Homo sapiens: one gene and its partners. The protein of the gene in region 2 interacts with the protein of the main gene of each other region in a biochemical or structural test. Each region holds a gene or a part of one and is shown on either strand. Other genes may lie near its edges.

What was found.
Region 1: the proteins of GNAI2 (region 2) and EYA2 form a complex in vitro, tested with the Homo sapiens proteins (one study listed by BioGRID).
Region 3: the proteins of GNAI2 (region 2) and RASA3 form a complex in vitro, tested with the Homo sapiens proteins (one study listed by BioGRID).
Region 4: the proteins of GNAI2 (region 2) and RGS18 form a complex in vitro, tested with the Homo sapiens proteins (one study listed by BioGRID).

Annotation. Positions count from the first base shown.
Region 1 is NC_000020.11:46,899,330-46,906,959, forward strand, and holds part of EYA2 (protein phosphatase EYA2), read left to right. Parts: intron 1-1,058; exon of another isoform or gene 1,059-1,936; intron 1,937-2,097; exon of another isoform or gene 2,098-2,419; intron 2,420-7,630. UniProt on the Homo sapiens protein: Functions both as protein phosphatase and as transcriptional coactivator for SIX1, and probably also for SIX2, SIX4 and SIX5.
Region 2 is NC_000003.12:50,253,024-50,260,483, forward strand, and holds the end of GNAI2 (guanine nucleotide-binding protein G(i) subunit alpha-2), read left to right. Parts: coding exon 1-161; intron 162-3,168; coding exon 3,169-3,297; intron 3,298-3,699; coding exon 3,700-3,829; intron 3,830-3,913; coding exon 3,914-4,067; intron 4,068-4,476; coding exon 4,477-4,667; 3' UTR 4,668-4,691; intron 4,692-5,344; 3' UTR 5,345-6,339; downstream 6,340-7,460. UniProt on the Homo sapiens protein: Guanine nucleotide-binding proteins (G proteins) are involved as modulators or transducers in various transmembrane signaling systems.
Region 3 is NC_000013.11:114,128,515-114,136,772, reverse strand, and holds the start of RASA3 (ras GTPase-activating protein 3), read left to right. Parts: upstream 1-4,149; 5' UTR 4,150-4,283; coding exon 4,284-4,338; intron 4,339-5,769; exon of another isoform or gene 5,770-8,258.
Region 4 is NC_000001.11:192,155,560-192,163,901, forward strand, and holds the start of RGS18 (regulator of G-protein signaling 18), read left to right. Parts: upstream 1-2,902; 5' UTR 2,903-3,078; coding exon 3,079-3,197; intron 3,198-3,660; coding exon 3,661-3,762; intron 3,763-4,818; coding exon 4,819-4,880; intron 4,881-8,342. UniProt on the Homo sapiens protein: Inhibits signal transduction by increasing the GTPase activity of G protein alpha subunits thereby driving them into their inactive GDP-bound form. Binds to G(i) alpha-1, G(i) alpha-2, G(i) alpha-3 and G(q) alpha.

The DNA of each region.
Region 1 (7,630 bases), on a different chromosome or scaffold from region 2:
TGTCGTTTGAAATGGGGAAACAAAATCATATTAAATATTCAGGAACACAAATACAAACCTCTGTGAGCCATGACCCTTAACCGGTTGGGTATGGTTCTGTAAAGGAAAATGACGGTTTATTTAAGGGCTAATTTGATTTATTCCTTCGATACTAACACTACGCATTTCAGGTCCTAAAAAGAGTCAATAAATTTACCGGCAGTGGAGAGGCCCTAAAACATTACGGTAGGCGCAGCCCAAGTCAAGTTTACCGGAAGGTGCTGGATCGCTATGGGTGGGTGTTGTTTCGGGTTAGATTTTAAACATTTGGAGAGCAAAGAATAATTTGGAACAGGTGGTGCCGAGAGTCAGGTAGCTGGAATGATTTATCTTTGCCTCTTTGAACGTTAAGGGAGGCCACTGGTTGCCTGAATCTGGAACCAGCAGGCTGCGGGTCAGTGGGGGCTGAGAGACTCGTCTTTGGGACAAACTTTGGCAGGATCCAGGGGCTTCGTCAGCGCTGTCATCGCCTTTGGATGATAGTAGTCAGAACACAGTTGTGCCTGCTCGTGCATTTTTGAAAAGTCTGCCTCTGCCTTCAGATATATGCAGAAATCTAAAACAGGAACTTAGACGCGCCGCAATGCCAATTTAAACATCTTTAAAAATGAACAAAGTATGTAATAGAGGTTAGAAACTCTTTTGTCATTTGGTATCAATAGTGTTGTGTCAGTAACATGAAAATGTGTGTAATTTCAATGGCATTGCACTTTCTTCTTCTTTTTTCCTTTTGAGTATCTAGTAAAGTTACATTTTTTAAAAGTCTGTGTTCCCAGATGTAATAGATACGAACGTATCTACTTGCAGTCATTCAGAGGAGAATTGTCAACTCTCTGCTAATGTAACTAAAGGAAAAATGATAAAATCAACATATTTTTCCCCAAAGAATGAGGAACTGGAGGGTTTGACTACTGTATATGGCAACTTACTTTTGTCTCGCGTCAGCTAAATCTGTCAGTTCCCCTTTCTTTTCTATTCATCTCCCAAGAATGGCCTTTCATAACTGAAATACACGTGTATTAGCCAAAAGACATTTTAATTTTGTAAAGAAAAATCATGCCAGAGACAGCCGGGTCTGTTTCAACCATTATTGTTTCTGCAGCATGCATACTTTGGGTTTCATGGTAAGATGTGGGTTTGTCAAGAAAGAAAATTACAGCAAGAAGCTATGCTGAAAACATATACACTTCTGTTTAAGAAATGAGAAAAACACAGAAAAATTCCACACAGTAATTGCTTTTACGTGAGTTTTAAATGTCATTGTTTGACTTATGTCAAAAAGCCCCCTTAGCCAGTTCTCTCATACTCCGTTACCAAATATCTCACCTTAAAAACAGCAAATGTTGGACTTCATTTTGATGATCTTTGAGGCTTTCAGAGATATCCTTAGTCCTAGTGGAAACATTCCAAATTTTTAGATTGTGCAGGCCATTTTTTTAAGGTTACTTAGATATCGATTTTATTTTCTTGACCCAAAATGAGAAAACACGGGGAATTCTCAAAAGCTTTTTACAGGCTGCTATTACGAGAAGAGAAGCCAAACCAACATGTATTAGGTCATGCGCTTGAAGTGCATAAATAAGCCCTATGAAGGTCACCAAACAGGGTGAAAACCACTAGTTCTCGTTACCTTGGCCACCTCTAAATTCCTGCCTGTTAGACGTGTTTGGTTGAAGTGGACACAGAAAGCGGGTTTCCGAGCCCGTGGTTGAAAGATCTCAATTTGACTTGGGTCCTCAAGGCGTCCTTGTGGTAAAGGGAGATAGGAAGGCTGAAATTCTGGTCTCCTCCCCATGGCTCCCTCTCACGGTTCCGGAGAAAAAGCAGGTACTGGGGCCTTCTCTTACTCCAAAGCAGATGTTTCCTACCTGGTATTCGGATATGCGGAAGTCAGAAGCTGAAAATAAAATGAAATGAAAATGTTCCTTCTGGTCAGTTTCTTCACCTCCCATTCCCTTCCTATAGTCACTTTGTGGTTAAGGTATTCATGGTTTCCAAAACAATTTTTTGTTCCCACTATGTTTTCTAGCATTTAAGATGCAAGGTATAAGTACTCACCTTTAAATCTCTATTGATTGGCAGCTTCCTGAAATACAGAGTCAGAGAGCGTGTCCACCACGTCCTGAGTTTGGTACCAACCCAGGTGCTGATGGAAATTCCAAGTAGGGAGAAAACGTCCTCTTCGGAGAGGCAGGGTGTCAGCGCAAAGAGGTTATTTTCTTTTGTGGGTGTGTATTATTTGCACATATCAGGACTTTTGTTTCAGGGTGTTCTAGAAACATTGATCTCTCCAGCAAAGTTCTGCGTGTCCTTCTTGGTTGGGAAGGGAGCGGAGAGGAAGGAGCCCCGAGGAGAATCGTGCACCTTTGGCCTTTTGTGTGACTCCTAGAGTAGAGGGAAGCCTCCGCTGCTCGGAAGGTGTCACGTGGTATAACAAGTTGTGACTTGTGCCTGTGTTGTCAACAGAGTTTTAGCCCCGTCCAGACATGAAAAAGAATGGAGCCCCGAAGATGATTCACCTCCGGTCTGCGATGGGCCCAAGCTGTCCAGTGCTCTCCTCTTGCTAAACAGACCATACTCCCTGGAGGAGTTAATGGCTGGGGTGTGGAGAGAAGACCGGTAGGAGGGGAGAAAGAATGCCTTAAACTCAGCAAATGTCTAAAACGCTCAAAATGTCTCAGCATTGCTCAGGCACCCACAAGAAAGACAAACTGATAAAAGGACATAGAATCAGGCTTTTTTTGAGGGGGAAGCACAGAGAGGTTGGGGGTTTGCTAGAGGTTTGATCTAGAGTGGACAATTTTTCTAACACCTTGGGACCCGATTTTGGAAATGTCTTCCTGTAGCCTTGCTGTCATTCCTTTGTGCTTATTTTTAGTGAATTAGTTTTGGGGATTTTCTTTTGTTTTTAAGAAAACACAGAGTTGTAAGACTTGTTTGGGAATCACAGGTTTTATTGAACACTTATTATTTATTGAATATTTATTATGTCCCAGGCATTGTGCTGTGGAAATACTTTATATGTTTTGTCTCCAAATGGCAGTAGATGGAACGTGCTGTTATTATTATTTCTATTTTACAGATGTGGAAACTGAGTCTGGAGAGTAACTTGTCCAGGATCACATGGCTTATGCCAGAGCCAGGATTAAACCCAGTTTTGATTCCTAACCACTAGGATGTCCAGCCTGCTCCCGTGGTATAACAAGAACTTCCCTTTCTCCATCTGTCTGCCCTGGAGAGCTAGATTTTAAAGTCCTTTTCCACTTGCATTGCCTTATGGATATTTATCGATGGTTAGGTACAAAAATCAGGTTGAGAAAGTAAGAGACGCCAGCAGATTCTCACAAGATTTTGAATCTGCCCTTGTAGAAATGAATGAATGTTTCAAGCTGGACCTATGGAAATGGTCGTAGCATCACTGCAGTTAGTGGCCTAAGTCATTGCTTACAGCTGCTCTTGCCCTATAACCGCAGGGTTGAACAGCCGTACTACAAAGACCATACGGCCTGCAAAGACTATCTGGCCCTTTACAGAAAAAGTTTGCTGACCTCTAAGCTATTGCAATATGACAAGACAATCCTTGTAGACCAGAAATAACATGCACTTGGGACATTTCGTATACCATTTCAATGATTTATTATTTATCAGGTGCCTCCAATGTGCTTGACACATTGCACAGTGATAGGGGAAAATTACAAGTGACTTCATTCCTTCATCCATTTACTTAACAACACTTATTTAGCTGTGTTCTGGGCTGTTTACTGGAGAGCCAGAGGTGAGAAGGACCAAATCCAGCATCTCCGGTAGGAGGATCCCAATGTGTTCTCACCAGTATCCCATGGCCTCTTCTTTCCTGAGGGTGCAGAGGGTGTTGACATGACTTTTTGAGCTTTCTAATGTTTGAGCAGCAGAATGGAAGCAACACCTCAGTCTGTAGACCCTCACCCACAGAAGCTATGCCTGGTTCAGTAAGAGCAGTGCCTCGGCTTCTGCACCTGAAACCGCACTAGGCATATAGGACTTACCAGTGCCCCAGGCTTACTCGGCCGACAGCAACTCTCTGCTTCCCTCAATGCGTTGTGCAGAATGAGGAGGAATGTAGAGAATCAGACTTTCCAAACCTCAGCCTGGGTACTGACTTTCAGCCTCGAGATTAAGAGCTTGAGTCCAGGAGCCAGGCTGCTCAGGTTACACTTCCCCTCAGTGTTAACCTACTCCTGCGTTTAACTTGGGGGTAAGTTACCAGACTTTTCGGTGCCTCAGTTTCTTCGTCTGTAAAGCAGGGTGAATAATAATGCACCTTCCTCAGAAAGCTATCGTGGAGATTGAGTTAATAAACATGAAGTGTTTGGAACTACGGCTGGCAAGTGGTATGAATTATATCAGTGTCAGCTACAGTTATTATTATTATTTATGAATTTGACCTGAAGCAAATTACTTAGACTCTTTGGGATGATAATAATAATAGTAACAACAATAATAAAATAACTTTTCATAGTGCCATTGTGAGAATATAAATGAGGCGATACATGGAAAACACTTAGCTTTGCTACACTGCCTGCCTCCATTCAATGTTCAATGAGCTAGCTATTGAGATTATGGGGAACAGTGCACTGGATCAGTGCGGTGTCTATAAGCTATTGATCAGTTGAGTCATTTTAGGTATCGAGAGAATGTTGGGCAGTGGTCGATAGCACAGGCCCTGGACTCAGACAGATCTGGCCTGAGCCTGAGTCAGTCCATCACTCACGGACTGCCATCTCCAGCAGGGGTCTGACCCTCTCAACGTCCCAGACATCGGAGACAGCAGTTAACTGTTCCTGGGGTGGTTGGGAGGCTTAAAAGAGTGGCTGGCACACCGAGCACAGAGCAGGGTGTTTGGCACATAGTAAGCACTCAATAAATGGTAGCTTGTATTATTACCACCCCCATTTCTTGCTGTACCCCCACCCCCAAGAAAGCACTGAACATTAGTAAATTTTAATTTGAAAATAAAAGAACACATTTTAAAACTGCCAAACAGATTTAAAATAATATTCATTACACAAAATTAAAATATTCTATTAAAGCCAGACTTTGGGCTCAGACCAAATTTTTATAACCCAAGCTTAAAGGCCAGGGAGTCCCCCAGCCACAATGGGGACATTGTGATTGAACTTGAGACTTCAACGCTGCTATTGAGCAGTCTTTGAAATGCATGTTTCCCCTAAAATAAAAGGGAAGTAATGGGAAGGAAAAAAATGAGGTTCTTGCTCCCCTCAACAAGCCTTAATGAATTGGAAAAGAAAAACAAAATATTTCTCATTTTTCTCCTGCTACTCGATCCTGCCAAAGACGCACGGCCCCTCCCAACCCTGGCTTTGAATGGTGCCCACTCAGAACCTTCCAGATCTGATATGCTATATGAGCAAACCTAATCTAAGTTGTAACATTGTAGTCTTCACCAGGTTTTACAGATGGCGGATTGTATCACTGGGAATCCAGAATGGGGAGCCCAAATTCCTAGGTTCAAGTCCTAGTTCTGCCTCAGTTTCCCTATTCACAAAATAGAGACAGTCCTCCTACTGCATAAAGTGGTGGTGGGAGTCTGAACGGTTAGCTCTCCCCATGGATGTTTTAATCTTCTGCTGTTACCTAATGAATGAAACTTGCCCTGAGTTCTGGGACTTTGAAAAATTAAAGTATACAGGTATGCCTCTGAGAGTTATAAATTAAAAAAAAGTCTATTCAGGGAGGAGAATGGAGGAGGGAAGAAGGAGACATAAAAATGGCTCACAGGAGTTATTATGTGACAGACACTTTCACAAAGCTCATTTAATCCTCTCAAAAAAAAAAAATACATGATATACATGTGTCCATTTAACAAACATGGAAACTGAGACTTGGACAGATCGAGTGACTGCCCAGCGGCATTCCATTCCAGGTCTGTGTGACCCAAAGCATGGGCCTGTTGTACCACATGACCCACAGCCCTCCTGGAACAAGGTCACAAACAATCATGGTGGACTGGAGAGACTCCCCTGACCAACCAGTTATTTATGATCTATTCTTACATTTCAATAGCATCCTTCATCCTCAATGAGCCTGAGTTGCTGTGGCCTTTTACCCCACATTCCATTGAGAACCAGTAGATTTTTTCTTGAACAGCACATGGAAAAAGTAACGTAAGTGGGTTGCAAAATCCTTTTCTGGATGAAATCCTTCAAGAATCCCTGCCATTTCTTGCCAACCGGAATGAAGTGACTTCCTCCTCAGACCAGGCCAGGCCCTTGGCTATGGTGTGGGACCATGAGACAGAGTTGTCTGAGGCTGGGCAGCTCCTGGAGAGGGTATGGGGTCCCCTCTATCACCAACCTGCTGTGTGTCTTCGGGCAGATCACAAGAGCCCTCTGAGCCCCAATCTCCTCATCAGCCCATGGAGCAGACACCTTCTATATAGGATTTGTTATACGACTTAAATAAAATGACAGTGGAATACTTAGGGTACTGTGGAATTGGACCCATTCCCAGGAGTACTCAAAGAAAGGGGAGAAAATGAAAGTTACTTGCCCCAGGCACATTCCTTACTGTTCTTCAGGTAGCTACCGTTTGGGGACTTTAGACATTCTGGAAGAATCTGTTAGTCTCTGAAGGGCAGACTTCTTTTTAATGATGTGGGCACCCTTTCCACATTAACTTGAAATGTACATGGACATTTTTTTTCTTTAGAGTTCTGTCTCTATCTTATTATGCATTTGGAAAAGATATAAAAAGCATTTGAAACAAATGGTTTTACAATTTTTTACTGCTTAAGACAAAAATGATTTAAAAACCAAGTCCATCAAGTAATTGATAGCAAAAGTGGCACACAGCCATGGCAGAGTTCATGAGGGAAGTTTCAGAAACACGAATCTGATGATGTGAAGCTTTCCCTGTGATCTATTCATTTAAAATAAAACATTTTAGTTTTAAAACTCATCCCCGCAGGCTGCGTACGACAAATTCCACCCAAATACCCAGAACCTTTTACTAACCAGAATTGCAATGCTGTGCTGCTTTCAGGGGAATAAAATGAAACAAATGCAGTCTCTCGGGGACATTGGTAAAGTCATCTCAGAGTACATCAGTGTCCGGGCACATCTAGTCTGTGTCTTGTATCTTTGAAAGAAGAATAACTAACCTTTGGATGACTGTAATGTTGATAAAAAATAATCTCTGAGGGCTAACTTTATGCCGGGATATGTTCCGAAAGATTATAGGCATTAACTCATTTATTCCTTGCAATAATTCTACGATGAAAGTACTGTTACTATTCCCAGTTTAAGTGAGAAAAGTAAGACACAGAGAGGTCAAGTGACTTGTTCAAGGTCACCCAGCAAGTGCAGGGGTAGAGCCAGGCTTTGTATGTGGGAGTATGGTTCTAGAGTTTGTCTTCATAACCCCTGACTTCCCTGATTCTTTAACCACCATAAAAAATTAAACTCTTTGACCCTCACTTACTTGCACAATGAATTAATTAAGGACAGGCATGAGAAGGGGCTGAAAGCGATGTTAAATCTCAGTTATAATTTTTCAGTTTCTTACAAGGATGTATTTGCGTATTCCATTATCT
Region 2 (7,460 bases):
GACGACGCCAGGCAGCTATTTGCACTGTCCTGCACCGCCGAGGAGCAAGGCGTGCTCCCTGATGACCTGTCCGGCGTCATCCGGAGGCTCTGGGCTGACCATGGTGTGCAGGCCTGCTTTGGCCGCTCAAGGGAATACCAGCTCAACGACTCAGCTGCCTAGTGAGTGCTCTGAGGGGCTGGGCAGGGCAGGGCAGGGGCTGGGGGAGGACTAAAGGCTGGACCGGAGGGCCTGAGAACCCCCAGAAGGACACTGCTGGTCTTTGCTTATGAAACCGATGACTGTTAACCAAGGCCTTCCTGTTTTTTGGTTTGGGGGGTGGGTGGGTGTCACGTTACTGAAAGGCCAGGAGGAATGACAGGCAGGTGGCTTATACAGTACATCTCTTCCAGGCCAGTTGAGTCTGATCTGTCTTGACAGTCTTCTAAAGAACATTTGCGGCCGGGCGTGGTGGCTCACGCCTGTAATCCCAGCACTTTGGGAGGCTGAGACAGGCGGGTCGTGAGATCAGGAGATCGAGACCATCCTGGCTAACACGGTGAAACCCCGTCTCTACTAAAAATACAAAAAATTAGCCGGGCGTGGTGGAGGGCGCCTGTAGTCCCAGCTACTCAGGAGGCTGAGGCAGGAGAATGGCGTGAACCTGGGAGGTGGAGCTTGCAGTGAGCGGAGATTGCGCCACTGCACTCTAGCTTGGGTGACAGAGCAAGACTCAGAACATTTGCTGCCACCTGTTCTGTGCCAGGCTTCAAGGACACAGTGATGAGTGGAGCAAAGTCCCCATGCAGTGACAATTTAGGGTGTTAGTGAAAAGGTAGAGGTGGAGTTGGCCCAGAGACAGGATTGCTGAGCTCTGAAGGAGAGTCAGCCAGGGGAGGAGTGGATGAGGGGATTCCAGGCAGGGGCATAGCATGTGCAGCATCTCGGGGTGGTGGGGAGCTGGCTGTGCTTGAACATAGGCTGTGGAGGCTGGCTGGAGGGGGCCACAGGGGAGGAAGTTATCTGGGAGGTGACAGGTGTGTGTGTAGGTCAGAGCCCCTGGACCTCAGCTGTGACCCTCGCTGGCCCTAGGCTGAGGAATTACAAGGGGTCCCAGGAATCCCAGAGGCATGACAAGCCTGCACCCTTTCCACAGTTCTGAACTCCTTCCCTGTGGTATCTGTCATGTACTTGGACTGGTGCAGGGTGCTGAGGACCCCACGGGGAACAGGATAGACAGGCTAATAGCCATTGAGGATGGCTGCAGGGGACATCCACAGGCTTTGGATGGTGTCACCAGATAGGCTGCTGTCCCTGTACTCTAGCCTTCCCCTATCTCTGCTTAAGCCAGTCCCCTCTGACTGGAACACCCTTTTGCTCCTATTGTTCATCCAATCCTGAGCCTACCCATAGGGTGGATTTCAGCAAGGGTGGGTGGGAGGAGGAGGAGGGTCTTGCCTGGCTGTGATTCCTGAGCCCTGTCCAAGCCACATGAACAGCCTCCTCCTACCCTTCTTACATGGCCTGAATGCTCTTGTGAATATGTACCCCCTACAGGAGCTGTGGAGTCACAGCCAAATGCTGTGGGGGCCCCCAGGCCTCACCACTGCCCCTCCCTGAGATCTCTGGCCCAGCCACCAGCGAGCTTGGGGTCAGAGCAGCAGGGACCTTGGTGCCCATGATACTCAAAGGAAGCAGGAATAGAGCCACCTCCAGGCCACCTCCTGCTTCTCCATCATCCTCTTTCTCTATTCTCCAGACATTAGGCACCCACTGTGTGCCCAGCACAGTTTTGGGAGTGAATACAGGCCCTGTTCTCCCAGTCAGGTTTAAGCCTTGATAGCTCCCCCTGGGAATGGGTTGCGGATTGGAACACCACAGGAAGCAGGGCTCCTTCAGCCCCTCTTCGCAGCAACCCTCCAAGTGTGCAGCGAGTCAGGGGGTCCCTGGGGCGAACCCACCTGTTGGGGAAAAGGGAGAGGCTGGTGTGGAATGCACCATGGTACCTCCACATTGAGGACTCTGGCAGTAGGGGGCGGGGCATGGTATGCGGGTCACAGCACATGCGTCATCCTTCCCCATGGCCCTTCCTGTTTTTCTGTTTTGTCCCTGCTACTCTGAGATCATTTCCCTCTGGCCTGGTTTGGCCTGGGTGCTGGTGGGAGCCAAGGGCCAGCCCCAGCAGCCTTGCCCCAGGAATGAAAAGTCAGCTCTGGGCAGCAGCCTGGAGGCCTGGGACCAGCCTCCAGGGCATGGCAGGGATATTGAGGCAGGCAGCAGAGGCAGGCCCTGCAGGGGTAGCCTTGATACTAATTAAGGGAACTGGTAATGAGGAGCCCCTGGGACCCCTGCCAAGCAGGTGTCTGTGCCCTCCCCCTGAGGAACCCAGATTTCATTGGGCGCTGGGCAAAGAGCCCACTGGACCTGGCAGGCCCCAACCTGTCCAGCACCACATCGAGGGACCGCACCCGGCTGCTCTGCGGCTAATGCCGTAATTGCGCCCATTAGCATCCTGAATCCTTCACCGAAGGACTAATTTGCCTCCTCCCACCCTCTTTGCCTATAGCTCCAACATCCTGGATCCTGTCCGAGGCAGGTCTGGCTCAGACCCTGGGTGCTGGAGCTTGGCTGGCTAGCTGTCCACAGAGCTGCACCTCCTCCCATTCCCATTCTACAGGTGGGAGGCCGGGGGCTCTGAGTTCAGGTTTCTTCATTTGAGCAATGAGGTAATGCAGGCAGGGGTTAAAGAAACAAGGGCTGTGCCTAGGCCAGGCGCAGTGGCTCACGCCTGTAATCCCAGCACTCTGGGAGGCCGAGGTGGGCGGATCACCTGAGGTTGAGAGGTCAAGACCATCCTGGCCAACATGGTGAAACCCCGTCTCTACTAAAAATACAAAAATTAGCTGGGCGGCAGGCGCCTGTAGTCCCAGCTACTCAGGAGGCTGAGGCAGGAGAATCGCTTGAACCTGGCAGGCAGAGGTTGCAGTGAGCCAAGATCATGCCACTGCACTCCAGCCTGGCAACAGAGTAACACTCTGTCTCAAAAAAAAAAAAAAAAAAAAAAAAAAAAAGCAAGGGCTGTGCTTGAGAAATGGCATGGGAGGGAAGGGGCCTCTTGCAGCTGGCCCAGGGTCCAGCTAAGGAAGCCCCATGCTGGCCCCCACTGACCCTCCCACCCCCCATCCCCAGCTACCTGAACGACCTGGAGCGTATTGCACAGAGTGACTACATCCCCACACAGCAAGATGTGCTACGGACCCGCGTAAAGACCACGGGGATCGTGGAGACACACTTCACCTTCAAGGACCTACACTTCAAGTGAGCGAGCATGTGGACAGGTGGGAGGGGCAGGACCTGCCAGCCTCTGGGGTAGCAGAGGCAGGGGCTGGTCCAGGATCCCCCAGCCCCACTGAGGTTTTACAAGGCTCATGTGTTCTGGGCAAGCACATCCTCACCACCTAGTGAACCAGCAGTCAGGATCCACGCCACCTCTGCCAGCTGCTCACAGCCTCTGCTGCTCCTGCCTGATGTGGCTGCAGCCTGCCTGCTGTCCAAGCTCCTGGCCCAGAACCAGGGGTGAAGTGGGCAAGTGTGGATGATTCCAGAAGGTAGCTGCCCTACTCTGGGCAGGCCTCTGTCCTCAGTCAGCCAACCTGAGAAATGGGGTAGAAAGCCTCCCCCAGGCTCCCTTCCTGGAACTAAGGTGATCTATATCTGCAGGATGTTTGATGTGGGTGGTCAGCGGTCTGAGCGGAAGAAGTGGATCCACTGCTTTGAGGGCGTCACAGCCATCATCTTCTGCGTAGCCTTGAGCGCCTATGACTTGGTGCTAGCTGAGGACGAGGAGATGGTGAGAGGATGAGAGAATGCTGCGGGTGGGGGCAGCGGGCTTGGGGAGTGGTGGCTAGCGTTGACCTTGCTATTCTACCCCCAGAACCGCATGCATGAGAGCATGAAGCTATTCGATAGCATCTGCAACAACAAGTGGTTCACAGACACGTCCATCATCCTCTTCCTCAACAAGAAGGACCTGTTTGAGGAGAAGATCACACACAGTCCCCTGACCATCTGCTTCCCTGAGTACACAGGTGTGGGGACTGTGGGGATAGGGCCTCCAGAGGGTTGCTTCTTGTCCCAAGTAGCCTATGGTGACCAGGTGGCCCTCAGGCGCCCCCCACTGGACAGAAGTGTAACCTTGGAACACTGGCAGGGGCTGGTGCCTCACTTAGGCTTGTATAGTTGTGTGTGCACACATGAAGCCCTTAACACACTCAAGCATGTACCCCTGAACATGTGTACATGGGCATCCTCCTTCACACAGTGGGGTACCCCTTTGCACATCTGGCATGTATGGGCAGCCACAAACATTGTCATATTATGCACATGCATGCACAGGTTGTATGCCTGGCCGTCCACACGCACAGACCCTTGCTGCACACGTAGGATGCGGCCTGCCTGCCACACATGCAGCACAAGTCTTCATTTTCTCTCCCCCAGGGGCCAACAAATATGATGAGGCAGCCAGCTACATCCAGAGTAAGTTTGAGGACCTGAATAAGCGCAAAGACACCAAGGAGATCTACACGCACTTCACGTGCGCCACCGACACCAAGAACGTGCAGTTCGTGTTTGACGCCGTCACCGATGTCATCATCAAGAACAACCTGAAGGACTGCGGCCTCTTCTGAGGGGCAGCGGGGCCTGGCGGGATGGTGAGCCAGAGGGGCTGTGGCAGGGTGCTGGGGAAGAACTAAGCGGGCCTGGAGCCCCAGCAGGGGGTTCTGGGGGTGGGTAGGGGGGTGAACCTGGAGGGGGAGGGGCAATAGGTGACCAGGGGACAAGGGAGGAGAAGGCCCAGGGTGTGAATCAGGAGGTCAAGTGAGTGAGGTGCAGGGCATGGAGGAGGTCATACAAGCAGGCCTGGCCCAGTGGTCCAGACAGAAGGGCCTGGCCTTGCCCTGGGACAGAACCAGAGGCCATCCTGATGTTCCCTGGAGAAATCTCACCTCCTCACCCACCAGGCCATTGGCCCAGCCTGCCGGAAGCTGCATGCCAGCGGAGCCCAGCCCTGCTGCCCACTACCACCAGCTCCATGTGCACCTCCAGCTCTTGCCCTCTGACTTGTCTGAGCGTCCCGGGCTTAGGCTGGCCCCACTGGCCCTGGTGGAGGTGGGGATGACTCTCCCAGTGCCACAGACTCCCCTCCCCCACGTAACCCAGCAACAGAAACTGGCTCCTGGGCGGCAACTGTGTCCCTGGTAACAAATGGGTAGGAAAAATAGAGAAGGGTCATTGTCTAGGGAGGCGGGAGAGAGGCACGCCCTGGCTGCTTCCCGATCCATGCTCTGCTTTCCCCCACCTCCAGGGCCACCGCCGACTTTGTACCCCCCAACCCCTGAGGAAGATGGGGGCAAGAAGATCACGCTCCCCGCCTGTTCCCCCGCCGCTTTTCTCCTCTTTCCTCTCTTTGTTCTCAGCTCCCCCTGTCCCCTCAGCTCCAGACGTAGGGGAGGGGTTGCCACAGGCCTCCCTGTTTGAAGCCTGCCCTTGTCTGAGATGCTGGTAATGGCCATGGTACCCCCTTCTGGGCATCTGTTCTGGTTTTTAACCATTGTCTTGTTCTGTGATGAGGGGAGGGGGGCACATGCTGAGTCTCCCAAGGCTGCGTCTGGAGGGGCCCCTGCTTCTCCAGCCTGGACCCCCAGCTTTGCCCAACACCAGCCCCTGCCCCAGCCCAAGTCCAAATGTTTACAGGGAGCCTCCTGCCCAGTCCCCCAACCCCAGCCGCTCGGAGGCCCCAAAGGAAAAAGCACAAGAAGCGTGAGACGCCACCATTCCTGGAAACCACAGTCCACCTGCTCATTCTCGTAGCTTTTTAAAAAAATGAAAGTAAAGGAAAAAAAAAAAACTGCAAATCTAGAAAACTTTTTAGAGAAAAACTATTTAAAACTGTCAGATCCTGACCAGCAAGCCCCCCCCCAGCCCCCCTTCCAAGTGACTCCGTGCCTTGAGTGTGTCTGCGTGTTTACACCCGTCCCTCTGCTGGCCGCCCCCGTGCGAGCGGCACCCCTGCCCTGCCCTCCACAGAATTGGGTTCCAAGGGCTGTTCCAGACAACTGCCAACGTCACTGAGGGCCCTGCCCCAGCGGCCCTGGCCCCAGGCTCTATTAACCTAAAATGTAGCTCCCTAGCGCTAACCTAGGAACCGCCGCTGCCTGCTGGGGGGCCACGCCCCTCATGCCCTTGTCCCAGGCCCGGGGCCTTCAGCGTTGAACACTTCCTTGCTTTTTTCACATGTTTTATGGAATTGTTCACCTGGTTTGAAATAATAAAATGTAGAAAGAAAAAAAATACCGAGAACTGATGGGTATTCTCTCCCAGGGGCAGAGGCCTGGGCTAAGGTGTGCCAAGGTGATGGTGGTCCTAACCTCAGTCCTCAACCTGAGTCAGGGCCCTGACTCAGCTTTCCGGGCCGTCCTGGAGCCCCACGCTCTGAGCTTCATTTCTCCCACCTGGACTAGGCAGCATACATGTGGGGCCCGTGTGTCCCCGCCCTTCCAGTACTCTGCAGCCTTGGGTCTCGGGCAGCTGGGCAGGCTTCTAAGGGAGCTGTTGTAAGGTGCTCTTCCACACCTGGAGCAGGAGGGGTGGCCGGCCTCTCTAGCGCGGAAGGAGAAAGTGACTTCCGACTTAGGTACCAAGGCCTGAGAGTGTCCGTTGCCAAGGCCACACAGCCAGGTGGGCCGCATGCAGTCCTGGCTTGACTAAAAAGGCCAGTAGGGGCCTTAAGACATATTCAGAAAGTTCCCTGCCCCAGAGGGCCGCCGCCAAACCTGAAGGGTAGTGACAGGTGGCCATACTACCATGTGATGGTTGCCCCAGGCTGGGCCTGGAGAGCTGCAGATCATTGACTCTGAAGATGGAAGGCTCCATGAGGCTGTGGGAAGGGCCCGCGCGTTTCTGGGGAAGGGAATTGCAGATGGCAAGGCTGGTGATGCTTGTGGGGCGGGCCCTGAGTGCCATCGAGGCGCCTGGACCTTCTCCCGGGGGCAGCCGCGGCCTGAACGTGTGGGGGCGGGCTCGCGGAAAGGCTGGCCTCGACTGGGTGGGGCTCCGGCGTTGGCGCATCCGCCTCCGGCCGCCAGGGGGCGCCGCCGCCCGTGCTCTGCCCTGCCTGGCTGGTCACAGAGGCTGACGTCAGCGGGTCCCGCGGAGGCCGCTGGACACAAAGGCAGCTTTGTGAGGCGGCGACGGCTCCGCGGCCGCCCCAGGACAGAGCGGCCTGGGCAGAGGGCGGGCCGGGGTCGGCGCCGCGGAGGCGGGGAGGGAGGGAGGGTTGGAGGGTTGAGCCAGAGACCCGGGACCCCGTCCCCGCACACCTGCCAGTGCCCCGTAGCTTCGGCCGCCGGCACTGGCAGGAGATGAAAGGCTGCTGCCGCCCGGTCGGAAGGACATCGGCGCCCCCCAGGCCCGGTCCCCGC
Region 3 (8,258 bases), on a different chromosome or scaffold from region 2:
GCGTGCCTCCATTTTGAATTCAGGCCCAGTGAGCCCCTTGGGATGCACCTGGCAGGATGGGCTCTTTCAGGTTCAGATACCTGATTCCACCGTTCTTCCTTCAGTTCTTACTTTGAACCCTCCAAAAATTATTCCGTTGTGTACTGGTCATTTATGTGGCTTCAAATCCTTTGAAAGTAGATTGTTCAGACATGATCTAATAATGCTGTTTTGGAAATGAATGAATGTCCACTTGTCAATGGGTTGATATGTGAACAGAAGAGTATATCCAAAGAGAGCAAAGTGTAACACCAAGGTCATTGAAAGAAGAAATTATAGAGATTTTCTATTGGGTCATCATCTGATCCTTTCTTCTCTCAGTATTTTATTTCCCAGCTCATATTATCACAGCTCTAAGAGACAACTTTCTAATTTAGAAAACGAATGACCAAATCCTTCATTTAGAACACAAATGTGAGAAGGCCGGTGCTTGGGCAGCTCTGCGGGGCTGTGTTTTGTTGCGGGAGCCCTGGATGTATGCTCAGCCCCTGTGCCTCTCAGAGGGCTGGGGGCCCCACATACAGATACCTTGCTCCGATGTGCCTGGATAAGCACTGAGGGTGGGTTTTAGGGACCGACTGGGGAGAGATGCACGTGGGGTCTGAGTCGACCGTCTGTGGGGCACTCTGGTCATGCCCAGCATCCATTTGTGCAGCACAAACTTTTTCTCTGGGACTGTCCGCCCCCCAGGTTCTTGTGGTATCGTAAAGACGACCACAGTTTCGAGATGTAGGAGTGAAATGGACCGAGGCTAACCCAGTGAAGTTTGCGGCTGGGTTAAGGAGTGAGTCAGGGAGATGCGTGTTTTCTCCATCATGACTGGGAGAGGAGTGCTCATTTGCCGGGAGGTGAGGGTGACTGTGCACCTCAGCCGCCAGCAGGAGCACCAGAGAAGCCCTGCTCCAGCCCTGCTGACGTCTGGGCCTGGGCCACCAGCCGGTGCAGTGAGCCTGGACCCCAGGAGTGCCTTTTCCAATCCTGACAGACAGCTGCTTAATGTGGGACATTGCTTTACTTTACGAGTTGAAAACGCCACCCTAGCAGCACGGAGCACCTCCCAGGGGCTAAACCCTGTATCATGACTGAATGCGCCCATGTCAATGAATTCTAACATCTAACTCTACATTCTGCCTCCCCTGAATCCAACGTTCTTTGGATCTAGTTCTGCATTTACCCCTGGCTCATGCTGGTGCATGCATTTTGGTCCTGAAGCTCCTTGGCCGACTGTCTCTTCCTCAGTTTTTAGCCTCAGCACTTCTCCAGCTTGATGATGCTGACCTGGAGGAGCTGAGCTGGAGGTGGGTGGCAGGCGTGTCGCCTTGCAGAGGTCTCTGCAGTGTCTTCAAGCACAGAAACAGCATTTGTCCTTAACAGACAGAAATGTGACACCTCTTCAGGCCCAGCAGATTTAGAGGAATCTGGGATTCAAGATTTTTGAGTGCATTCATTCAGATGGCCCCATCGCAAGCCTCTCTTCTTCCCAGTCAGGGCCTCTCTTCTTCCCAGTCAGGGTCCAGAGCTTGGAACAGCACCTTCCGAGGCCGAGCACCCGAACCTGGAACAACACCTTCTGAGGCCAAGCACCTGGCCTTCTCTGGAGCTCTGCCTTCTACACGGTTAAGTCCTGGCCCTGATCCAGTGTTTTGGTTTTCCTCTGGTCACAGGAGATGAGTGTCTTATGTGGCACTGAGGAGGCCCGTTAGCGTGCCACCCTTTTGTTTCAGGTGGTGATCTTTTCATTATCTTGCCCTCAACACGAGCCACCTGATTCCATAGTCCATGTATCTGTGACTTTCCCGAACTCTCCAGCACCCGAGATCCTGCCGCTGCCAGTGCATTTCCTTCCAAGGGGCTCCCGTCCTGGCTGCCACTGCTGCAGTCTGGAGATTCACTCCTGACCCCAGCTGTCGCCTGGAAACAAACACCAAAGCGAGATCCGCGTTGAGTTTATCAGCAGGCCTGTGAGGGTGGAGGGATGGCAGAGAAGCAGCTTTGTGGCTGGGCTGCCACAGAGGACTCCACTGGTCCTCGGAGAAACACAGGAGCCGGCTTGCTTCCAGTGGCTCCAAACGGAAGCATAGTCTCCGTCGTAAAGCAGGGGTGTGGATGGCGTCCACAGCACCCACTGCAGACGCCACCCAGGGCCAGCGCTAGACGCAGAGGCTCTGGGTTGGAACCAGGGGTGCCGCCTTAACCTCCTGTTCTGCCCCAGTGAGCACCAGGCTTGCAAGGGCTGAGGATGAGAGAGGCCCCTGTGGCTGCAGGCTCCCAGCAGTCAGGGGAAGAAAGGCCATTCATTCTTTCAACGCATGGAACTGCTTTTTAGGAAGTGAAGGTAAGCAGTGGAAAAAAATAGGCCTCTATCTTCATGAAGCTCCTGTTCCTCTCCATGCAGTGTGTGTGTGTTTGTGTATGTTCACGTAGGTGTGTGTATGTATGTTTAGTGTGTATGTCTGTGCATGTGTATGGGTAGTATATGTGTGTGCTGTCTGTGTTGTGTGTATATGAACATATGTGTTCATGTGTATATGTGGTGTGTGTATGTAGGGTGTGTGTATATGTGTGTATATGTATGTGTGTACACGTGTGTAGTATGTGTGTGGTGTCTGTGTGTGGTGTCTATGTGTATGTATATGTATATGTAGTGTATGTGTGGTATATGTATGTGTGTATATATGTGTAGGGTGTGTGTGTGGCACTGGGTGCAATGAAGTTTTGCAACATAGAGGAGGGAGTGTAGTCTCAGTTCATATACACACCTACAGTTCATACACACACACAAACATACTCCTCAGAGAGGAGGTCAGGGAGGAGGAGACCTCGAGACAGAAGAAAGGGAGGTAAGGGTGGTACCTGCCCATGCTGGGGTCTGCAGGGGGACTGGGGGGGGACCTGCCCATGCCGGGGTCTGCAGGGGGACTTGGGGGGGGACCTGCCCATGCTGGGGTCTGCAAGGGGACTTGGGGGGGGACCTGCCCATGCCGGGGTCTGCAGGGGGACTTGGGGGGGGGACCTGCTCATGCCGGGGTCTGCAGGGGGACTGGGGGGGGACCTGCTCATGCCGGGGTCTGCAGGGGGACTGGGGGGGGACCTGCCCATGCCGGGGTCTGCAGGGGAACTGGGGGGGGACCTGCCCATGCCGGGGTCTGCAGGGGGACTTGGGGGGGGGACCTGCCCATGCCGGGGTCTGCAGGGGGACTGGGGGGGGACCTGCCCATGCCGGGGTCTGCAGGGGACTGGGGGGGGACCTGCCCATGCTGGGGTCTGCAGGGGGACTTGGGGGGGGGACCTGCTCATGCTGGGGTCTGCAGGGGGACTGGGGGGGGACCTGCTCATGCTGGGGTCTGCAGGGGGACTGGGTGGGGGAGACCTGCCGGTGCCGGGGTCTGCAGGGGGACTGGGGGGGGACCTGCCCGTGCCGGGGTCTGCAGGGGGACTGGGGGGGGACCTGCCCATGCCGGGGTCTGCAGGGGGACTGGGGGGGACCTGCCCATGCCGGGGTCTGCAGGGGGACTGGGGGGGGAGACCTGCCCATGCCGGGGTCTGCAGGGGGACTGGGGGGGGGAGACCTGCCCATGCCGGGGTCTGCAGGGGGACTGGGGGGGGGGAGACCTGCCCATGCTGGGGTCTGCAGGGGGACTTGGGGGGGGGACCTGCCCATGCCGGAGGTCTGGGGTGGGGGGCTGTGTGTGCGTGTATGTGTCCCCGCCCCCCTCGTGCGTCTGCAGCAGGTGCCTTCGGATCGCATCTCAGGAGCTGGGGCTGGGCGCGGGATTCCTCCCCTGCCAGATCGTTGTACGTGAACTTCTCTTGGCAAAGTTCGTCCGCGAGTCAATCGCTCAGCCTCGCTCAGCGGGCCCGGGCCGCGCCGGCGACCTTCCTTCGTCTCTTCCGCCAGGCAGCCCGCTGGGGTCCCTTCCGCTCAGCGGCCAATCCGCGGGGCGGGGGCGGGGGCCGAGGCCTCGGGGGAAGCCGATCCCTGCGCCCCCCGGGTCTCCGCCACCCGCCAGCGCCGTCCCTGCCAACCCCGCCCCTGCAGGGCCCGGGCCAGTTGGGAGCAGGGGCCGGGCCGCGGGCGGAGCCTCCCGGTCCCCGCCCTCGCCCTCGGCCAACTGGCGGTCTTGCAGGCGGGCGGACCCTCGGCCGCGCTCGGGGCTCCGGCGCCGCCGCTCCTCCTGCTCGGCCTGAGCTGCCCGGGCTCGGCGCGCGCTTGGGGCGAGGCTCGGCGGGCGCGGACGCGCAGCATGGCGGTGGAGGACGAGGGGCTCCGGGTCTTCCAGAGCGTGAAGATCAAGATCGGTGAGTGTCCGCCGGCAGCCACGCGTCCGACCCCCCGGCCCGACCCTGTCCTCTCCCGCGCCCGCCTCCCCTCCGCAGATCCTTGCTGGGGACCCCGGCGGAGACGCCCTCCAGGCGCGGCGCGCTCCCCGGAGAACGGCTGGTCCGGCTCCGCGGCCCCTCCCCACCTCCCCGCCTCCCCGGGCCTCGGGCTGGGTCGAGTCGGCTCCGGGGTAACGCGGCTCCCTGCGCCTCCTCTGCGCCCGGAGCGGCCCCGGTCCCTGGTAGCGGCGGAGGAGGTGGGGTCCCTGCGCCGAGGGACGTCTGTCCGCGTGTGCGCCCGAGCGTGTGCCCCGCGTGTTTGCAGGAGTGCGCGCGCCTGAGGCTGTCTGGGCGCCTGCACTTCAGGTGTCAAATCCACTGACGTCGGGGTCTCGGCATCTCCCTTTCTCCGCTGCGCCCAGAAACTTCCTTTCCGGGGAATGTGGAGGCTCCTTCACGCTTCTCCCCAGGGGCGTGAGGCCCCGGCGCGCTGCTGCTGCTGTGCGCGCGCGTCTGTGCCTGCGTGCGCGCGTGTTTGTGTGTGCTTGTGTTTGTGTGTCCATGTGTGGGCGGTGTGTGTGCGCGTGCGTTTGTGGGTGCATGTGTGGGTGCGTATTTGTGTGTGGATGCATGTGTGCGCGCGTGTGTATTTGTGTGTGGGCGCGTGTGTGTGCGCGCGTTTGTGTGTGTGCATGTGTGCGTGTGTGCTGGTGGGGCGTTCTGGCTGAGGGCTCCCGCGGGGCGGGGAGACCCCGGACCCATCGGCACCACGTCCCTTTCCACTGAGAAGTGGCGGGCGAGCTGGTGGCGACCAGGGCCTGCGAGGCTGCGGTTTTTCTCTGGGCTTCAGCAGCTTCTGAAGTGGGCTCCCGGAGGCGTTTCCGGAGAGGAGGCTGTGTCTGGACTTCTGGTTTATCTGGAGGGATCTGCTTTTCCCTGGTTGTTTTATCTTGGGAGAGTGATGTGGAAGTCCTCCCCCTCCCCCAGAGCAAGACCGTTTCCTGGAGTGACTGTTCCATATTCATGCCATGAGTGTGCTGGACCACAGCGCGGTTCAGGCTGGAGAGGCTTCCAGGGCCTGCAGTGTCGCGGTCCCCACGGTCCTTCTCCCCCACTGAGCCGCACTTCGCAGCCGGCCTCTTCCCGTGTGAAGAGGCCTCCGGGAACGGGCTGAGTGTCAGTTGTTGATGACATTTGATGCTGCCGGAGGCATTCCAGCTCCCCTAAACCAGCGGGCTGTTTCCTGTCGGCTTTATTTTGGTTTGCGGATCATCGCTGAGACACTGTCTTGATATTTGGCCCAGAAGCGCTGCAGCTAGGATGTGGCAGCACTTCCGCTTTGAGTAGTCCAGAGAGGAGGGATTTCTTTTGTTAATGTGGTTTAAATCCGCTGTCACTTTCATACAAGAAAGCCAGAGCTGGCGCTCCCTGAAGTGCCTGAGGTCGCCTTGCCTGGGTGGGGAAAGGTCGCGGCCCGTGGGGGTCAGTTTGCTGCTCTTTCCTTCAGCCAAGGCTGCTTGGCTCAGCCAGCGAGTCTGAGGAGTGTGAGAAGCACTGGGCTTCCTCAGTCACGGGGGCAGGAGGGCTGGAGGTGGGTGCCCCTGTGGGGCAGTGCCAGGTCTCCAGGCAGCAGGCAGAGGCGGCCTGGGGCTTTGCGGCTCGGGGGTGGGGGGCCCACAGCCGGCACAGCATGCTCGCTGTGTACTCCAGGAAGGGCTACACTTCAGGCCACGGCAGGACTTTACAGAAGGCATGGGAAGTAGAACAGGAGGGCGAGGGAAGACCAGAGTCTCAGACCAGATACTCAGACCCTGAGTCTCCCAGAAGGCAGCTTCACCGGCCTGCGGGCACTCGGCCCCACTTCCGACAGGCGTGGGGGTCAGGCACCCTGGAGGATCCCTCGGAGAGAAGGAGGTTTGGAGATGCCACAACTTGGTCAGGCTCTGTGCTCCACTTTAAACAAGCCAGTGAAACCCTGGCTCAGCTGAGGCTTAGGCTGCTAATCCCACGTGGGGCCTGGATATCATCTGAACCTTTGACCCTCCCAGGGGCAGCAGCAGTGAGGACGGGTAGAGAGGCCCAAATGCCAGCTGCCCGACTCTCTGGATGTGGCTCCAGCAAGAAGTCCCCGTTTCCTCTCCCCTCCAGAGGTCACCTGCAGGGCTGGCTGCCTGAGGGGTATCTGTGCCCCAAGTAGCTGGGGAGACAGGGCACCTCCTGCATTTGAGCAGAGATGCAGTCTGGGCTGGAGACCCTGAGGGTGACCTGTGGGTGCGCTGGTTTGGGGTTAGTCTCATGTAACTGTGCTGCTGGCCTGATACCCCGGGGCTCCAGCAGAAAGCCCATCTGTAGAAGCGAAGTGGAGGATGACCCTGAGCGGCGCTGGTGCCAGGGGGCCACTGAGCCCCTCAGGCTCTTTCTTTAATCCACATTCATGGCCAACCTTGGCTCTGACTTGCCCTGCCTGAGTCCCTGGTCTTGAAGGCTCAGACAAGATGGTGCCCCTGTGGTTGATTTGAGGGCCCCTCGCTGTCATTCACCTCTGAGCCTTGTCTCCAGGAGCGCTGGATTTGCCCATGAGTCTGCCAGTGACTTGCTGCATGACCCAGGGCCCGTGTCTTCCCCTTCATAACCTCATTTTTCCGTTTGCAAAAGCCAGGCAATTATTGTCTACTACATCCGGTGGGAACGTACAAGGCAGTGTTGTTCAGGGTTAAGTTAACACCCTGCCCCCTCACTCCCAGAACAAGAATTGTCCCTAAAGTTATACCATAAGCAATTCTGCTACTACTCTTACTAAGAAAAAAAGCCAGCACATTTCTGGGGGGATTGGGAGCTTTTTTTAAGGTATAGGGGCATTGGCCATTTAAATTCTTAAATAGCTTTGAAATGTGTGGTGGTGTGTGGCCTCATTCAGACGTTGACATTGGGAAAAATGGAAAGAATCTCTTCCTCCTTTCCCCCTTCCTCTTTCTTTGTCCTTCCAGCTCTTGCAGGTGAGGTAATAAGAGGAGAGCGCCACGTAGAAGTGAGGTGCTTTGGTGGTAACAATTTGGAGTCTTTGTCTTGAAGAATCTGGCTTTCTGCATTTCAGTTTTGTGGAATCATTTTGGATATGTCCTTCTGTGCACTTAAACATCTTAAACACTGTGTCTTTTGAAACAGTCATTAACCTTTCACAGTAGAGTCTGTGTATCATGCATGACTGAGCCACACTTCCTATGCGATCGCTGCTTTGAGGAAGCCTGTGCTTCGGACTTTCCATGAGTCAGGGACCCACAGGGAGGGCACTTCCGCCACGGCCACGGCGTTGTTTTGGGGCCCCCGCCCCCAAGGCGTGCAGTGCCTCCTCCCCTCGCAGTGATGTCTTCCGTTTCCACAATACTTACTGCTTGTTTTTAAATGTGGCGCCTTATCTTGATACATGTGTTCAATAAAGAGCAACACACAAGGTGTTTCTCTCAATCTGTTACAGAAAAAAAAAAAGCCAGCCCCGCGGTCCAGGGCGGGAAAGGCTCTCGCACCGCGGTGACCCTGCCGTCGAGCTGGAGGCGGTCAGCGTCCGGGAATGCCGTCCGTGGGAGGCCGGGCCTGCCGTGGGCTCCCCGCTGGGGCTTCCTGTGGCTCTCTGGTCGCTCCCTTCTTTCTCCTCTGGGCTCAGTGCCTGTGGCTCCGCTGGGCTCTTGCTCCCTTCCTGTGAGGCTGGAGCTTGTCCGTGAAGAAGACCCACGGCCGGTCTGGCCCAACATTGAACCGCTGGTGCCTGCAGGCCTGTGGGGCAGTGAGGGCCAGGGGCTGCCGGCCTCCAGCCCCAGCTATCCCTCTCCTGATCACAAACAGAATCCCACCTGAAGCAGGAGGAGGTGGCACCGGGTGAGAATAGGGAGAATGACAAGTGG
Region 4 (8,342 bases), on a different chromosome or scaffold from region 2:
TAAAACTAGTTATAAAAACGTTTGAAAAGTAGTCACAGGAGAAGAAAGACATATTAGAACATAGAAAACTGGCACTGATTTCTCAACAGAAATAATGGAGTTCAGAAGACAAAAGTGTAAAATCTTTTAAAGTCCTAAAGAAAAGAAAAATCATCCTATAATTCTTTCTGGTGAAAATATTCTCCAACGGAAGATGGGGAAAAAGACACTTTTTTCATATGTTATATATTTGAAAATTGTTCATAAAATCATATATTTTGTTTTCTCACCATAAAACAATAAGCACGTGAGATAATACATATGTTAAATTGCTTGATTTAGCCGTTTCATAATATAAACAAAAAAAAATTTTTCTCAGAAAATCAGTACTTGAATATATTTATTGTTAGCAGATATGCACTACAGAAAATATTGAAGACAGGTCTTTATGCTAATGGAAAAGGATTCCAGGCCTGCACAAAGGAGTGAAGAGAGCTAGAAAAGGGAAACACGTGGGTATATATATATACACACACACACACACATATATATATAAATCCTTATCATTAAAAGTATACATATTTAAATAATAACTGACCATGCCCAAAAGAATGATATTTAACTGATGTCACCTTCAGAATCCACCTTTTTCTTCCTCTCTGGTTCCAGCTCCTAACTGACCACATACGCAGAGTAGAGCCAAACCTCTCTTTTCCAATTCTGTTTCAGAACTTTACACAGACCTGTGGAGTAGTTCACTTATGCCCATATTTTCTTTTCTTTTTCTTTTTATTTTTTTGTGAGGGGGATGGAGTCTTACTCTGTCGCCCAGGCTGGAGTGCAGTGGCATGATCTCGGCTCACTGCAACCTCTGACTCCCGGGTTGAAGCAATTCTCTGCCTCAGCCTCCCCAGTAGCTGGGATTACAGGCACCTGCCTCCACGCCTGGATAATTTTTGTATTTTTAGTAGAGATGGGGTTTCACCATCTTGGCCAGGCTGGTCTTGAACTTCTGACCTCATGATCCACCTGCCTCAGCCTCCCAAAGTGCTGGGATTACAGGTATGAGCCACCGTGCCCGGCAACTTGTGCCCGTATTTTCACAATTTCTTTTTCCACGGTTCTATCAGCATTGTGTATAGCACACTTCACACATAAATTTAACATATCTTATGAAAAATAATATATTGATTTTATGTCTTTAACTTCTCTGAGTTAACAGTTAAGTTATAGTCCTAGTGACTGGATGATGTCCATGCTCCTATGATTTTCTCTTGTGCTCATTCACCTTCATAGGATTAAACTGATATAAACACAGTGGATACTAATCATTACTAGGGGACAGCAGGGTGGAAGCATAATCTGCATTATCAGTATCCATTTCCAGCAGAAGCTCAATGCAAAATGCCATCATACATAATATTTTTCAATTCTCAGCCAAGGTGAGAGATTTAAAATATGTTCAAAGTACAAGTCATGGAATCAGGGGGTATATGTATAAATATATACTAGAAAGTCTTTAATTTCATATAGATAAATGTTTTGAGCTTTTAGCTGGTATCCCTGATAAATTGTCTTGGTAAAAAAATAATTCAAAAAGACTGAAAATAAAATTTTCTTTTAGGTTTGTATAACTCAGCTTTCAATATATACCATTTTAGATTAAAGCATTCACTACTGGAGATCAAAGATTCTTGGAAGGACTAAAGCACATAGTAGGTGATCAAAGGCTCTGATAATTCCAGATTTTCCACTGGCCTGTCTCTGAAACTTTGTAGGATTAAATTACCTAATGCCTGTGAACTTTGGTTTATTTTTCAATAAAATTTGAATTATGGACTAGAACTGCATTTGTAAGACTTTTGTATTCTATAAAACAGTGAAAGAAGTGGAGGCTAAACCAATTGGAGTTGTCAACATTTTTTTTAATAAAGGCATTAAAATATAAAAACTACCATCTCTACTTAATCCATGTCATTATAAAGAACATTTTTACATTATAAAGAACATTTTAACAACAAAAGAGTCAGGAGAGCAAATTCAAAATAGCAAGTCCTTTATATCAAAGGAATTAAAATAAAGCTTTAAGAAAAAAAACTTTTCATATTTTTTTCCATTTCATCACAGACTGATAAAAATTTCAAAAATGTCTAAAATCATTCTATAGATATGTGCTTAAAACTTTATTTATTTATTTGAGACAGAGTCTTGCTCCGTTGCCCAGGCTGAAGTGAAGTAGCCGGCATGATCTCAGCTCACTGCAACCTCCGACTCCCAGGTTCAAGGGATTCTCCTGGCTCTGCCTCCTGAGTAGCTGGGACTGTAGGTGCACACCACCGTGCCTGGGTAATTTTTTGTATTTTTAGTAGAGATGGGGTCTCACCATGTTGCCCAGGCTGGTCTTGAACTCCTGAGCTCAGGTAATCTGCCCACCTTAGCCTCCAGATTACAGGCATGAGTTACTGTGCCCAGCCCAAAACTGTTAAATTAAATGCTTTCTACAATCTTTTTTTAACCATAAAATTCTGATCTATTGTCTTATTTTGTTACAATATGTTAAGCCAATGTAATTAACATTACATAATCTTATGTCAGTTAAATGTGATTTACTTAACTCATGTAATAACAATAAGAAAAATACTTTTTTAAGAACTGGAGAAAATATCTCCTAATGTTTGATATAATACTTTGCCATAACACATTTTAACACACAGTCCACACATTTAAAAACTTTTTGAAAAGTTCCTGTGGGAAATGACAGTGTTATTTGAGTCTATTAAAGCATCATTCTGGTTGCGCAAACTTGAACGAGAAGTTGCACTGTGGTAAGACTAGTCTTTATCTTAGAGACCAAGAGTCATTTTGCAAATTTGTGGTATCATTTCCCTAAACAACTTAGGACCAAATTGTACTTCATTTCCTCAGTTCTGCATTTCTGCAGAGACAGAAAGAAACGCAGCTCTTGACTTCTTTTTTGTAAACATTACTGTAAGAGTTGTGATAACTTTTTATTCTACTATGTATATGTATGGAATAGTATTAATAAATGAACTAGGGAAGGATGTAATAAATTAGACATCTCTTCATTTTAGAGAGAAGATGGAAACAACATTGCTTTTCTTTTCTCAAATAAATATGTGTGAATCAAAAGAAAAAACTTTTTTCAAGTTAATACATGGTTCAGGAAAAGAAGAAACAAGCAAAGAAGCCAAAATCAGGTAAAATTGTACAATTTTAAGTCAGCCTTATACTTTTAAAAGCATAATTGAGGTTGAAGATTCATTACCTCTTGTTTTTGAACTATTGGGTGGAAAATATATTGTTTGTATTGCTATAATTTGGGAAAAAAAAACACCTTTTTATTTCTTAGGTTTAAACAACAAACTGAAATCTAAAGTGTTCTCATTAAAAAAAAAGTGTAATAATGTTAGCCACATAGAGGAACTAGTGCAATCTTTATTGAAATATAATCTCAAATACTTGATTGTCGGTGAGCAAAAGGAGAAACATTTTCGTATGTTACCCTAATTCCTCCACAAATACAATATTTAAATGGGATTCATGAGTGTGTGGGTATGGGTGGGCGTGGGTTTTTACCAACTACAAAATTTTCTGGTAGTCAGCAGGAGAGATTTTAACTGTCATCTAAATTGTCCTGACATGAAGGCCTTTTTATTACAGAGCTAAGGAAAAAAGAAATAGACTAAGTCTTCTTGTGCAGAAACCTGAGTTTCATGAAGACACCCGCTCCAGTAGATCTGGGCACTTGGCCAAAGAAACAAGGTGAATAAATTTTCAGTATTTTGAGGAAGATTTTGCTGATTCTATCATTAAAGATTTAAGAAAAATGCAGTTAGGGATTTCTGATTTATTGAAAATTACACAGCAATATAAGGAAAGTTAGAAATTTCATTTGAAGAGACTAGAAATATTTCATAAAATTAAATCACTTGAATTAAATCGCTTGAATTGAATAATCACGTGAACACTTAAAGCTGCTCTTTTAAAATTATATACCTGTCAGTTTTAAATGACATGTTTTACTCCTTATAACCTGATAAAATGCTCATTAATTTAAGAGTTTTCACAATGCAATATTGTCATAGCAGAGAGATATTCATCTCTTTCTTCAGTAGTTTGAAAAAACACACGCATTATAGCAAGTAAAGCACAAATAATGTCTTTTAATACTTAGCATTTATTTAATTCAAAAAGAAAATGCAAAAACCTTATATACTAGTTTCATACAAATTCTTCCAAATTAGAGTATAATAAAAAAGATCCGAGAAAATATATTCAATTCTCCACATTACCAACATCTCTAGAATATTTTTTCTATTAAAATATCTTATATTTCTTATCCCTTTGAAACTTTATTAGTCAAACTTCCTGTATCCGTTTAAAAAAAAAATTTGCAGCCTAGTGTGGTTACAGCTTCAAGGAAATTGCAGTATAATTTTTTTTTAACTGAAAGATACTGTGAGTTTAGTTTTTTTCTACTTGCTGAATTTAAACAGATAGTTGACCTGATTTCTTTATATTTGTTATCTGTGCCCTTTAACCTAAAAAAGGATTAATTTTTAATTAAAAAATAAAACTCACATATCCATGAGAAAAAAAATAATGTTATTTCAACACATTATTCAACAGACAAATTCCAAAAGAAAATTGAACAATGTTTTCAAAGTTTCTAATGTAAATGCAATTTTCATTATATTATAATCAAAGGAGAAACTGTGAAATATAATTGAAAAGAGCAGTAAAATAGCATATGTTAGAACAGATTCATAAACAGACTTTCTGCACACTCCATTATAAAACATTTTGTTTCTTGTACAGAGTCTCCCCTGAAGAGGCAGTGAAATGGGGTGAATCATTTGACAAACTGCTTTCCCATAGAGGTTAGTGGTACTTTCACCAAATACTTTGTGTGCTTAATGGAAAATTACACAAACTATGCATGTAATTATCCGAAACAATAGGTCACAAAATTTTTGTCTGATTGTTAATTTTCAGTAATTCAATTTTCTGATCAACAGAACTAAGTAATAGAAAAGTCAAATAATGGAAATTTTTTTAAAAGTTCTCATTTTGTTTAGAATTACCTACTGTGGATGAAATATTAGTTATTTATACTGTAGCTAGTTTCAGTTTTTAAATTTTTCCGATTTTTGAATGAAATCTTCGGTTTTATCAAATTCATGATTAACGAACTATTCATGTTAGTTTCATTGTTCAAGGATTAAAAATATCAAGTAATTCTTTCGATGGACATACAGGAAACCCACATAAACACAGTTTTTTTTGTTTGTTTGTTTTTGTTTTTTGTTTTGAGACGGAGTCTCGCTTTGTCGCCCAGGCTGGAGTGCAGTGGCGCCATCTCGGCTCACTGCAAGCTCCGCCTCCGTTCAGGCCATTCTCCTGCCTCAGCCTCCCGAGTAGCTGGGACTACAGGCTCCCGCCACCACGCCCGGCTAATTTTTTTGTATTTTTAGTAGAGACAGGGTTTCACCGTGTTAGCCAGGATGGTCTCAATCTGCTGACCTGGTGATCCACCCGTCTCAGCCTCCCAAAGTGCTGGGATTACAGGCGTGAACCACTGCGCCCCGCTCCATAAACACAGTTTTAAAAAAAATTTATAAATTCTTCATTCTGTACTTCATATCAATTGTCTATTTTTAAAGCAGAATTTTGTAGAAATGTTGAGAATCGAGTATGTATTTAAGGTGGAGCTTTGTCTGTGAGATGGAGGGTGAGGACAAGCATCAAGGCCTCATTTGACTCTGGAACACTGTTATAATATAGCATGGCTTAGGAGGCAGGCTCCCTGGATTGCCACTCTTTAGGGTCAATTTACATAAGGTAGCAAGTGAGTGAACTTTGTTGTCTGTATTCATTTTATGCTTTCTTTCAGATAGAAAGACTCAACTGAGCAGGTGATGCAGCTAGGTAATCACAGATTTATTATTCTCCACCCTGAACTTGTCAGAGTCTGCAAAAAAAGCAATGCTTTATCATTACCAAACATCCACCTCAAGCCCACAGCTTTTTTTTTTTGCACTTTAAACTTGTCCAGTTTCTCACCTTAGTCTTTGAAATACAATCATTTCCCAGCTCTTCCCAGACCCTTCCAAGATGAGGTTAGCCAGACTACTCTAACTACTCCTTGTAGCGTTGCCCGTGTCTTTCACAATTTTAAGGTGTCTACTGGAAGAAAGGATTCCTGTTGCCAGGACAGTTGGGAGTGGAATATTTGTAATTCACCCTCAAATACTATGCTCCATTTAATGTAACAACAACTTTTCTTTTCTGACATATTTTTGTTTTGTTTTGTTCCCTTCCTTAATTGTCCAACTCTTTATAAGGTCTTGGTGACCTTTTCATGTTCTTCTGAATTTAGTGATATAAAAATTCTATATCTGTAGATGATACCTGAAAACTTTCCCTCTGCCAATGAAAGTAGATGGCTGCCTCTGAACTGTAATATTTATAGGTAGAGAAATCAAGGCTTAAACTTAGTTAAGGATGTAATCAATGAGAATGGAGAGTTATGGTAAGAAAGTTTGTGCTGACAAAGTTTAACTTGTATTCCTTATATTTCACTCTAAGACTAGCTACTATCACTTCCTGTTTTTGGGAAAAGTAACTTAAACAGCCTTCCTCAACTACTGTACTCACTTTTCTTCATTTCCAGTATACGACAATTCATTTTTTGCTGTTTTTTGTTTGTTTTCTTTTTTGTTTTTTTGGTTTGTTTGTTGTTTTGTTTTGTTTTGTTTTTGTGTTTTGAGACAGAGTCTTGCTCTGTAGCCTAGGCTGGAGTGCACTGGCACAATCTCAGCTCATTGCAACCTCCACCTCTTGGGTTCAAGGGATTCTCCTGCCTCAGCCTCTGGAGTAGCTGGGATTACAGACACAGGCCACCACACCTGGCTAATTTTTGTATTTTTAGCATATTGGTCTCGAACACCTGACCTCAAGTGATCCACCCATCTAGGCCTCCCAAAGTGACGGGATTACAGGCGTGAGTCATCATGCCCAGCCCCAGTATACAACAATTTCTAAACTATTGTTAAAATTCTTGCCAAATCTATGTCAAACTTGCCCCGTACTCACTTTCTTGCTCCGATTGTTTTGGTTCAGTTTCAGATATGCTCTTTATAGATTAATTACAATAACTTGTGTAAAACTTGCTTCCATAATTCATGTCCCCCAAATGTGTTTATTTTAAAATCTCCTCTTATATTCAACATTTTGGTACTGCACTGCCCTTTAGACTCCTCACCAGTCAGAGAAGGAGAAAAGAAAACAAAACAACAACAACAAAAAAAGAGGACTGGGATTAATTTCTTTATAATATAAGTATTTATTAGAAGGAAACATACATCTTTTCATCTGTGGATTCCTAAACTTAGCACATCCCCTGGAAAAGAATATAACTGAATTTGTTTCTAGAAGTTAGTCCAGAGTTCCAGTGAAATTCGAGTTTTAGTTTTCTCCTAAAACATAAATGGTTGTATAATCTTAGTTAAGCTTCCTAATCACTCTGACTTTCAGCTTCCTCGACTGTAAATGAAGATAATGTTTTTAGCTCCAACAGAAATAGATTTCTGTCAGGATTAAATGAGATGATGAATAAGAAACCAATAAATCTTGGACACTACAGAAATGTCAATGATTGCTGCTATTATAAAAAATAATATTTACTAACCAGCTTAATAATCTTTTTTTCTGTTTCCAGTCTAGTTACAACTGGATGATGATCAATTAGAGGGTGAAAATTTCAATTGACAATAACATATAGACAGGATTTCTTTCACTTAATGAATTAGTATATAATAATTTCATCATACTTTCATTACTCATTCAAAGCATAGAAAGATTTAGCAGGATGATTAGTCCTACAGAAAATCCTCACCTAGCATTCTGTAATCTTTCTTCTTTAAAAGTGGTAAAAAGCAAAAGGACAAAATCGAATTTGCTACTCTCTCTTTTCTCTACTGGTAATATTGAAGAACAGTAAACTATCTGCAATTTAAATCAAGAAGAGACACATTTAAAGAAATCAGCACTGACCCACTGGATATTATCACTTGTCATGATTACAATGCTAAATATATTATATTGAATTCACAGAATTTATATTACCAGTATTATTTTACTCAATCTCCCCTAATCCAATTATTTTTATTACAATGCTTATAATAATATTAAATTGTCAAACTTAAAATAATCACCTAAAACAAGCCTTTTGTTTGCAGTGGTTAAATTCAGTTTATTTCTATTTATTTGACTCTAGTAGAAAAGTGTGTGTGTGAATATATATATATATTTTTTTTTTTTCTTTTTTTTAAAGAGAAAGA